Linked DNA regions of Homo sapiens: region 1 is linked to region 2. The links come from fine-mapping of genetic effects on gene expression. A gene starts in region 2. The other region holds a variant in brackets. All regions are shown on one strand. Distances are from middle to middle.

Evidence for each region. PIP is the estimated chance that this variant, and not a neighbour inherited with it, causes the effect.
Region 1: its variant is the best candidate, but not a certain one, in a credible set for the expression of PTGIS in left ventricle (GTEx, PIP 0.58).

Annotation. Positions count from the first base shown.
Region 1 is chr20:49,590,541-49,595,915 of GRCh38, forward strand. LOC105372651 (a long non-coding RNA gene) reads left to right here and starts at 4,030. Exons shown (of 4, transcript XR_001754713.2): 1 at 4,030-4,289. RefSeq lists an enhancer at 5,221-5,375. The variant T/TC (reference allele first, on the strand shown) is at 2,808.
Region 2 is chr20:49,565,012-49,570,386 of GRCh38, forward strand. It overlaps PTGIS (prostaglandin I2 synthase), which reads right to left and starts at 3,126. Exons shown (of 10, transcript NM_000961.4): 1 at 3,032-3,126. The coding sequence starts at 3,105. LOC101927486 (a long non-coding RNA gene) reads left to right here and starts at 3,033. Exons shown (of 2, transcript XR_244188.4): 1 at 3,033-3,162. RefSeq lists enhancers at 3,426-4,042, 4,043-4,657.

The sequences.
Region 1 (5,375 bases), 26 kb after region 2:
TTCATTGTACTTGTGACTTGATGAAATGATTCTGTTTGATTCTTTGCCGGGTTGTTGTCAGCTCCATAAGAAGAGGACTTTATCTTGTTCTCTGTGTACAAACACATAGTAGGTGCTCTGTAAGTACTTGTTGAACAAACATGTAAATGAATGAATGAATGAGAGCCAGTGTGATTTGGATGACTGCGTGCATGTGCTAAGTAAACTGTTTTCCATGATCTCTGGGGTTGTGTGTGTGTGTGTGTGTGTGTGTGTGTGTTCAGTTTGGTTTTTGCCACATCTTTATACCCTCTGTTCTATTACAACTTAGCATTTTTCTTTTTATATAAAGAAACTCATTTAAAGGAATCTTGACAATATCACTAGAAACAGAAAGCCAGTATCAGCACATACTTGCTATAAATAGCAAAAAAAAAAAAAAAAAAAAAAAAAGAAAAGAAAGAAAGAGAGAGAGAGAAAGAAAGGAAAACCCTATGCATATAAATTCCATGAAGATGTGAAAAAGTTATCAAATTCTCACAGGGTATGATTGCTACTGTAGTTTCTAAGCCTGAGGCTTTAGAAAATCGATACTCTCTTGAAAAAAAAAATTTAAGCCTGAGGCTGTTGTGTCTTTCTTAAAAAGGAGATTGGCAGGTGTCAGAGAGGTGTTCAAGACAAGTTAACTCCAACCCGAGGCTTTCTCAATGATCTTTCTCCAATTCATCCCAACACCCACTTGCCGCAGACCCTGTGGAAGGCCCCAGATCCAAACTCCCTTCCTGCTAACAGCAGCTGTCTGGGGAGATTTCCTTCCAGTTGAGCCATCCAAGGACTCCTCCCCAGCCCTTATCTGTGGAATGGAAAAAATACTAGCCCACACCTCATAGATTAAGAGAATCAAATGAGCTCATTTATAGAAAGCACATGGAACAATGACAAGCATGAAATAATAGTCACTGATGTTTACTGAGACTAACAGCATGTCACACCCAGTGCAAAATGCCTCACGTCCTCCCACAGAGTCTTCATAACAACCTTTAGCTCATGGAAGTACTATTTTTACCCTATTTGGCCAATGAAAAAGCAGAGGCCCAGGAAGGTGAAGTAACTTGTCCAAGGTCACACAGCAAGGAGGCAATAGAGCTGGGATTTGAACCCCGGCTGCCTGACTCCAGAGCTGTACAAAGCCAGATACCACAGAGGCTGGGTTATTGTTCGTCCAGACCCATGTTCCCACAGGTCCTCTCATCCCTTACCTGCTCCCTTTCTACCTTGTATTTCTATCCTCCTGCTCTGAGGAGATTCCTCTCCCTGAAGATGCTTGGGCTTGAGGGAACCAGGAGGAGAGGAGGTGAAGTTGGCCTGGATGACTCTGTGGTCAGGATCCTAATGACCCAGTAATTTTCCTCCAAGTCCAGTATTCTCAGGATTAAGTCCTAATCATCCATCTACCCACTCACCCACTCATTCATCCATCTGTCCATCCATCTATCCATCCATCCATTCATCCACTCACCCATCCATTCATTTACTTATTCATCTATTCTCCCATTCACCCATCCATCCACCCACCCACCCACACATCCACTTATTTACCCACCCATTTCATCCATTCTTCCATCCACCCATCTATCCATCTATCTATCCACTCACCTGTCTATCAATCCATCCATCCATTTATCCAGCCATCCATTCACCCACCCACCCATTCATCTGTCCTCAATCCACTCACCCATCCACTCATTTACTCACTCATTCATCTATTCTCCCATCCACCCTTTCATCCACTCACCCACCATCCATCCATCCATCCATCTACCCATGCATCCATCCATCCACCCATCCATCCATCCATCCACCCATCTACTCATTGACCCACTCATTTCACCTATTCTTCCATCCACCTATGTATTCATCCACCCACTCACCCATCTACTCATTCACTCACCCATTCATCTATTCTCCCATCTACCCCCATTCATCCACCAGTCCATCCATCCATCCATGTAACATTTACTGAAGGCTCACTACCTGCCTGCAAGGTTCAGGTGAGGGACAGAGCAGGACTGTACAGGTGTCTCTCAGCCTCTACCCTCCCTCATTCCTGCTTCCATCTTCTTCTGATCTGGGATAATTCCTCTCCTGGGAGATCCAAGGATGATGGGGAGCAAAAGGCGGTGGGGTGAGGGGTTGGGGCTTCGGCACTGCCTCTCTACTGAGGCCCCAGTCCCTTCTCTGTATGGACAAAATGGAAACTTGTGGTTTTTCTTCCTGCATTGAACCAGCAGGCTGAGCTGGGGCTGAACTCCTGGGACATTAAAAGGGGGTGAGAGGTGAAGATGCATCCAGGTGGGGGGTGTGTGTGTGTGTGTGTGTGTGTGTGTGTGTGTGTGTGAGAGAGAGAGAGAGAGAGAGAGAGAGAGAGAGAGAGGAGGTGGAGGGCGAAAGGCCTGTGCATCTCTGTCTCTGTCAGGCACACAGAGAATGGCAGTGGTGAGCCTGCAATGTATTGGGAAGACATTATTGTTTGCTCAGAAATGGCCAAGAACCCCAGCTCCTCCCTGCCAGGAGACACAGGATTCTGCGCCTCCAGGCACAACCGTCTTCCCTCCCTTCCACTTTCCTCCCTCCTCCTCAAACCCTTGCCCAGGTGCCCCCCGGCTGGCTGGGTTCACCAGAGGATAGATGACCACATACTAATCCCAGCCTCCTGTGGAGGTTAGTCCCACCCTCCACCGAGGTGGAAAATTCCTGCAGGTAGAGTCAGCAGTGGTTCAAGTCCCACCGTTGTCCATGAGATCGGACTACACAGCACACACGGCCGC[T/TC]TTTTTTTACCTACCACGTGTCCCACGTCTCCTACAGTCCTTTAATCCCTGACCAGTCCTTCAGAGGATGGACACGCTCTGATCTTTGTAGCCTCTCTTTCTCTCCTCAGGGATCACACCTCACTGTAGACCACAGCCCAATGTCCCAGGTGACTCACTTACTAGAATTTGTAATTCACTTCATCCTGCCACCACGCCCCTGTGAGCTAGACACCCAAATTGACTCCATTTTACAGATTTGGAGACTGAGGTGCAGAGAGATTAAGTCCCTGTCTGAGGTCGCATGGTGGATGAGCAGCAGACACCCTGGCGGGCAGCCTGGCTCCTGAGCCACGCGTCACCACCGTCTTAGTGGAAAATCGGCCACAAGGAGGGATTCCCCTTCCAGTCTCCTGGCCCTTGCCAAAGGATCCATACTAGACATGAGAGGAGGAAGGGAGTCCACACCGAGTCTGGCCTCAAACCCTCATTCCTTAGGAAACTGCGCTAATGTCGCCCCCTCCCTCCCTGTGACCACCCCAGGTTGTATCTGCACCTTCCCAGCTAGCCCAGGTGTCATTACATATTTATCTGTTGATCACTCGGCTCCAGGGACTGCCATATCGGCCCAGGAAGTCACGATCTTGTCTGTCTGGTTAGGGGCTGTGGTCTGGCACTGGGCACATAGTCAGTATTCAATGAATTTTGGCTAAAGCCCTTTTGGATCGATCATCTATTGCCAGTGTGGCTCAGATGCAGCCCCCGCCACTGACTGTGTGACTCTGGCAGGTCACAACCCCTCTCTGAGCCTCCCTTCCATCATCTGTAAAACAGACTTATCTCTGAGTCCTACACATGTTAAACACTCAAAGGATTTCTGTTGCATGAATTAGTGAAATCCGAGCTGGAAGGGCCTCTAGAGCCCAGGGTTGCAAACTCATAGACTCCAAAAGCCAGGCAGGAGCCAGAAACCACCGAGGGAGCTGGGTGGGGACGGAGGCAGCTGCTACTCAGCTCTAGTCACAAGCACTGCCATATCTGGTTTCTCAAGAAAAACCAGAAATCTAGAGATTTACAAGAAGTTTCCCAATTTCTAAGTATTGGCAACTAATTTAAAACATTTAAACACATCTGTGGACGGGATGTGGCTGCAGGCCGTTTCTTTGCAACTCATGATTCATCTAACTGCTCGTGGCACAGATGAGATCAAAGCCCAGAGAAGGTGAGCCACCAGCCCCAGGTCACAGAGCACAGGAAGTGAAGAGGAAACAGTGACCTTTCTCCTTCGGCTGCAGCCCTGTTGCCCAAGCTCAGGGCAACCCCTGAGCCCTGATCCCAAGGGAGGCAGTGCCGCCTTCTCCTCTAGGCCTGGCAGTTCCAGGGTGACAGGAAGGTCACGATATCTCTGTTTGGGTGCACTGCAGCCTCCGCTTCCTGCCAGGACCAGGCTGTATCAGGCACTGGGATGAAGAAAACATTCCAAGCAATGGGCTGGCCTAGAAGGTAAGAGCTGGTGGCAGAGAGGGGGTAAGCACACCCCTTCCTTACTTCAGGGACGTGCAAACCCCTTCAGCAGGCCTGGGCAGAGCTGGGAACAGGGCGGATCAAGCCCTGCTTCTGGAGAAACATGCTCTGCCATTGGAGGCTGGGAGCTCTGTCCCCGCATGGCTCGTAGGACCTTGGAATGCATTTGTCCAGCAGCTTCTAATACACCAGGCCCTCATCTGACCCGCACCCCCACAACCTCCATGGGCTCTCCTCCCTCTGTCCCCTCTTGATCTCTCTACGCAGGCACAATGGTGCCTGCTCAGCCCTGAACACAGCAGCCCTGCTCCCACCTCAGGGCCTTTGCACACGCTATTCCCTCTGCCTGGTTCACTTCACCCATTATGCAGATGGCTTACTGTAGACCTCTACTTGAATGTCGCCTTCTCTGTGAGACCCTCCCTACCTGTTCACTCTGTTTAAAAATGCAAACATCCCCCACAGTCCTTAGCCTCCATCTGGCTTCCTTTGACCCTGCTGTGCTTAGGATGGTGGGACACATATGTTACACGTGTTTATTTGTGTTTCCCTTTCCTGTTGCTGCTGTAACAAATCGCCGTGAACTTGGGAGCTGGAAATAACATGAATGTGTGAGCTTACAGTTCTGGAGGGCTGAAGCCCACAGTGGGTCTCAGCAGGCTAAAATCAAGGTGTGGGCAGGACCACGTTCCTTCTAGAGGCTCACAGGGAGAATCCGTTCCTCCAGCTTCTCAAGGCCACCTGTATTCCTGGGCTCACGGCTCCAACCTCCATCTTCAAAGCCAGCAACGGCGAGGCCATCTTTCCCATGCTGCATCCCTCCGCCTGCAACACCTCTGCTTCCCTCCTGCACTAAGCCCCTTGTGATGACACTGGGTCACGATGTCATCATCTGGGTAATCCAGGGTCGTCTCCCCCAGCTCAAGGAGACTGCTCAGCAGCCTCCATTCCCCTTGGCCGTGTAACCTTGTACATTCACGGGTTCCAGGGATGAGGACGTCTTGGGGAAGGGCGCATGAGTCTGCTGACCACACACACCAAACACACCAGGCGTTGGCTCCAGGA
Region 2 (5,375 bases):
CCAGGCTGGAGTGCAGTGGCAGGATCTCAGCTCACTGCAACCTCCATCTCCCGGCTTCATGCCATTCTCCTGCCTCAGTCTCCTGAGTAGCTGAGACTACAGGCGCCTGCCACCACGCCCGGCTAATTTTTTTTGTATTTTTTTTTTTTTTAGTAGCGATGAGGTTTCACCGTGTTAGCCAGAATGGTCTCGATCTCCTGACCTCGTGATCCGCCCTCCCGGCCATTGTCCTTCTTTAAGAATTTTTTGCTTGTAGTTGCATTTCTTAGTATCTAAAAGTCACATGGTTCTAAGACTTTTGAGTGTTCAGATTACCAGTATAATGTGTGGGAAGACTGAGAATTCATTCTTCCTGTGAATTAAAAATTCTTGCAAAGCCAGGCGTGGTGGTTCACACCGGTAATTCCAGCACTTTGGGAGGCTGCGGTGGGAGGATCGCTTGAGCTGAGTTTGAGACCATCCTGGACAACATGGCAAGATGCCATCTCTACAAAATTTTTAAAATTAACTGGGCATGGTGGCACACACCTGTAGTCCCACCTACTCAGGAGGCTAAGATGAGAGGATCACCTGAGCCCAGGAGTTCAAGGCTCCAGTAAGCTATAATTGTACACTGCACTCCAGCCTGGGCCACAGTGTGAGATCCTATCACTAAAAGTAAAAGCTAAAAATTCTTACAGCCCAGAGTTTTAATCCAGACAGACCTTGAGCAAGTTGCTTAGCCTTTCTGAGCCTGTTTCCTCCTCTGTAAAATGGAGATAACCAGAGTGTCCCTAGCTGAACTGGAAGGAGAAAGTGAGATTGGGGATCTAAACTGGGGTCCCCAGGGTCCATGCACCTACCCTCAAGCTGCCAGTGACCCTCATTCCCACACTTCTCCCCACTACCCACTGTTGACCCTTCCAAGGTGCCCACAGGTATAAAAATCAAAGGCTCAGCAGGGCGCGGTGACTCACGCCTGTAATCTCAGCACCTTGGGAGGCCGAGGCAGGCAGATCACCTGAGGTCAGGAGTTCGAGACCAGCCTGGCCAACATGGAGAAATCCTGTCTCTACTAAAAATACAAAAATTAGCTGGGCATGGTGGCACATGCCTGTAATCCCAGCTACTGGGGAGGCTGAGGCAGGAGAATCACTTGAACCCAGGAGGCAGAGGTTGCGGTGAGCCGAGATCGTGCCATTGCACTCCAGCCTGGGCAACAAGAGGGAAGATCCATCTCAAACAAACAAACAAACAAAAAAAGAGCCCATAACGTATTCACATGATGGAAGACTCCAGAGAGGATCAAAAGAATGGATTCGATCTCCTTGTAGCAAAAAGATCTGCTTGTAGCAAAAAGAACAGATGTCAAAACTAAAATCTGGAGTGAAAAGAGCAAGCAACATAATGTCTGAAAACATTTCTATACAGTGTATTGAGAAAGCCTGACAGGAAAAATAATTCATTTCTTCCCTGAGACATTTATTCACTGTCTTTTTCTTTTCTTGTTTTAAGGCAAATGATTGACTACACAGTTGTAAATTTCAGCTGAAAAGATGTCTGGAGGTTGAAGAAAAATACAGTGAGCTTATTGTTTGAAAATTCAACTACCATATTGTTTAAAAATCAAAAAGTTCCCAAGGTTTCCGGAATTTTCAGACACGAATGTAAACTAACTCTCTCTTACGTGGCTCTGTATTAGCTACAAGCTCATGTCTATGTATGTAAGAGTAATTTTTATGTAAGAGTAATTTTTAAAACATCTGGGAGACTGAGGAGGTATGAAAACTAAAGGCAATGTGGTAACTTGGGGCCGGATCCTGGAACAAAAGAGGACAGTAATGGGAAACTGGATAAAATCCCGTGAAGTTTGAAGTTTAGTTAAGAGTAACGGACCAGTGTTGGTTTTTAGTGGCGACAAATGTCCCATAACAATGTAAGATGTTAACAATAGGGAAAACGGGGTGAGAGAAATACAGGAACTTTTTGTACTATCTTTGCAACTTTCTGTAAATCCCAAACTAGTCTCAAATAAAAAGTATATTTTTTTAAATATGGAAGGTTCTACCCAGACTCAGCAACAGGAGAGGCCCAGAGAGGGAGAGAGGACTAGACTTCAGGGGCTGGGGGAGGGTTAAGGGGCTTCGGTCTTACCTATAACAGGATAAATATTTGTGTTAAGTCGAATGTATTCAGCTATTCCTTATGCAATTCAAGTTAACTTAAAAAATATTTTATGAAAAGGAGAGCTACAGCTATCTCCTTGATTTGAGGCTGTCTTTACTTTTTCTCCTAAATCACAGATGCTCAATGGAGCTGGAAAACCTTTGGGACCAGGAGGCTGTGACATCTGACCCTGGCTCCGTTCTGTCCAGGCTGTGGGACCTCAGGGGAAGGTAGAGACTTCATAGGCCTCAGTTTCTCCCTGGCAAATGAAATTACTAAGCCCACCGACCCCCGTCTTCCAGACGGGGAATCCCGGGGTGGGTGGTTCCAGGGCATGATCAAGACATCCCCCAGGGGCTCTACACTCCGCTGGCTCAACACTCCCATCTGTGTAATGGGTTGAGGAGCGAGGCTATCCCTATAGGACTGCCGAAAGCAAGGCAGGGTTTGACAGCGCGTAGGTGGGTGCCAGGTGCAGGCAGAGGCTGGAGAGTGGAGAGCGCTTCTTCCACCCGGGCCACGCAGAGGCTGTCCCCGCACGGCTCCCCACCCACAAACCCTCGGTCCTCACCTGAAACCCCCTCCTAGGTCCCTGCCGTCGCGCTAAGGGCCAGACTCGGACTTGTCGCGGTGGGCGATTCGCCCCGGGGGACCTACCGGACCCCGCACCTTCCCACCTTGCACCTTCTTGGCAGGGGGAGCACGGCCTGGCCCCCTCACCCACGTGCGGGGCCCCGGGACTCCCACCTCCGAGGGTCTCGCCTTGCCCGGGATACTGGAGCGGGACTCGGGCCGGGCCGGCCGCGGGCTCCGAGACCCTTGGGCTGCAGCCCGGGCGGGAGCCGCCCCCTTTGTCTGGCGGGGCCGAGCGGAGCAGGACACTCACCGCGTGCGGCGGCGGCTCAGTAGCAGCAGCAGCAACAGTGCGGCCAGGAGGCCGAGGAGCGCGGCCCAAGCCATCGCGGGGCTGGCGGGGCTGGCGGGGCTGGCGGGGCTGGCGGCCTGGCCCACTCCCAGGTAAAGTTCCCCGCCCCCACCCGGCGCGCCCCTCCCACTCCGCCCACCCCAGCCCGCTTTGGGGCGGGGTGGGGGGGGTGGGGGATGGGGCCCTCCGAGGTCCGCAGGGGTCGGACCGGGGCGCTCTGTTAGAAACCCTGCTCCCCCCAGCTCAGGCCTGATGGAAAATGTGGGAGGGAGGGGAGGGGAGAAGGAGGGGGAGGGGGAGGGGGCGGAAGGGATGTGGTGGGCTGGGGAGTGATCAAGGGGAAAGGAGATAGATGGGGGACTGAGGGGGATGTGGTGGACTGGGGGGTGATGGAAGGGAGGGGAGAGGGAGAGGATTTACAGGAAGGAAGAGATTATATGCGGGGAGGGAAGAGGGATGGGGAAGATGGGAGAGGACTTTTGGGGAAGGGAAGAGGAGGGAATGTGGGAAGACGGCGGGACGATGGGGAAACAGCCAAGGAGGTATGGGGAGGAGGGGGCACAGTGGGAGGAGAAAATGTGGTGGGAGGGGACGAACATGGAGGAGGAGTGTAAGGGGGTCAGGAGGAGCTTTCCCACCACATTCCACATTCCACCTAGACAGAGGAAACCCCCCAAGGCTCCTCCTCACCCCATCCCCCACCCCAGGCGTGCTGGGGACCTGGAGTTTTCCATTCTGTGGTCTGGGCTGGGAGGGCTGGTCTGGATTATATCGCACCCTATAGTATCTTCAGTAACTACTGGGCAGGGGGTACAAGGGTGTCTCAGGGAGTCCCCTCATCCTCACCTGCTTTGGGGACAGATAGTGCCCGTGAAGTATGCACCCTCTACCTGGTGCACGTTAGGGCCTCCGGATGTGGTGGCCATTGTCATCGCTACCTGGTGCTTGGGGTGCCAGCCCCCTGTGCCCGCGGCTCTGCAATGTACCACCCCAGGGTGCTGATGAGAACTGGGGGTCAATCCAGCCTCACTCCACGCCCCTGCCCCCACCATCCCCATTCCCACCCTGGGAAGCGTTGGGCAGGTAGCTCAACCTCTCTGAGCTCACCTCATTATCTGGAAACAGGGAGGGCAGAGTTGTGCTTACCTCTGGGGCTGTTGTGAGGAAGTGATGAGAGCTTGACACTAAAAGGAATCACAAACTGTTGAGTGCTTGGCACACTAAGTTTTATGAAACCATGGGCTGAACCTGGAGGTAAGACCCAGGAGGTCTTGTTCTAGTCCTGTATCCACCCATTCAGTGCCGGGTGAGCTTAGGCACGTTTCATTCCATAGTCCCAGCAGAGCTCTGGAGAAGCTGTTGCTCCTCCTGGTCTCCTGGCTTCCATCCTTATCAGCCAGGGTCCTGACAAGGCCCTTCGAGAACCAGCATGATCCGCCCCTTCTCACCTTTACCTGCCTGACCCTATGCCCCCGACTCTCTCCCTCACCCACTCTGCTCCAGCCACACTGATCTCCCCATCTTTCCCTAGAGGTCCCACTGCAGGGCCTTTGCACGTGCTGTTCCCTCTGTTCGGAGCATTCTTCGCACAGCCTGCTCTTTCCACCACCTCCCCGGTGCCTCTATCTCTGCTCAGCTGTCACTGCAGAGAAGCTGTCTTTGGCCACCTGGTCTAAAACAGTCATCTCCTCTTACTGATTTTTGTTTCTTTGTTTTTTTGATAGTTTTTTTTTCTGGCAGTACTTCACATGTCCTGCTATCATACTCAAGATTCATTCATTTGCCTGCTTAATGTTGGCTGTCGAGGCAGCTGGATGACCCCCTTGTGGCCTCAGCAGATTCAGAACAGCAGGAGGCAAAAGGAGTTTTCTGATCCTCTTGTTTATTTTTCCAGCTTATCTGCCAGAGAAGCCAACAATCCCAAGAAGGCCATAGAACGGGTCCAGAGGATTTTCTCCAAATTTGGGGAGCTCCAAAGGGCTGTCTGCTAGCAGTGGGGTTCACAGCTGGGCTTGGCCGATCCTCAGCTTTGTGACCCCAAGCAGACTGCTCCACCTCCCTAAGCTGAGGTTCCTCATTGACAGAATGGGGAAAAGAGAACCTCATGGAGTTGAGGTCAGGAACAAACGACCTGGTCCATGGGGCACACCTATGTGAGTGCCTGTCACACCATGAGCATCAGGGAAAGTTAACCGCAATTAGCGCTTATACCAGTTCCGCTCCTCTCCATTATCTGTGATCAGGCTTGGTCTCAATTTTCCCATCTGAAAAATGGGAAGAACAGTTCCTTCCTCATGGGGCTGCT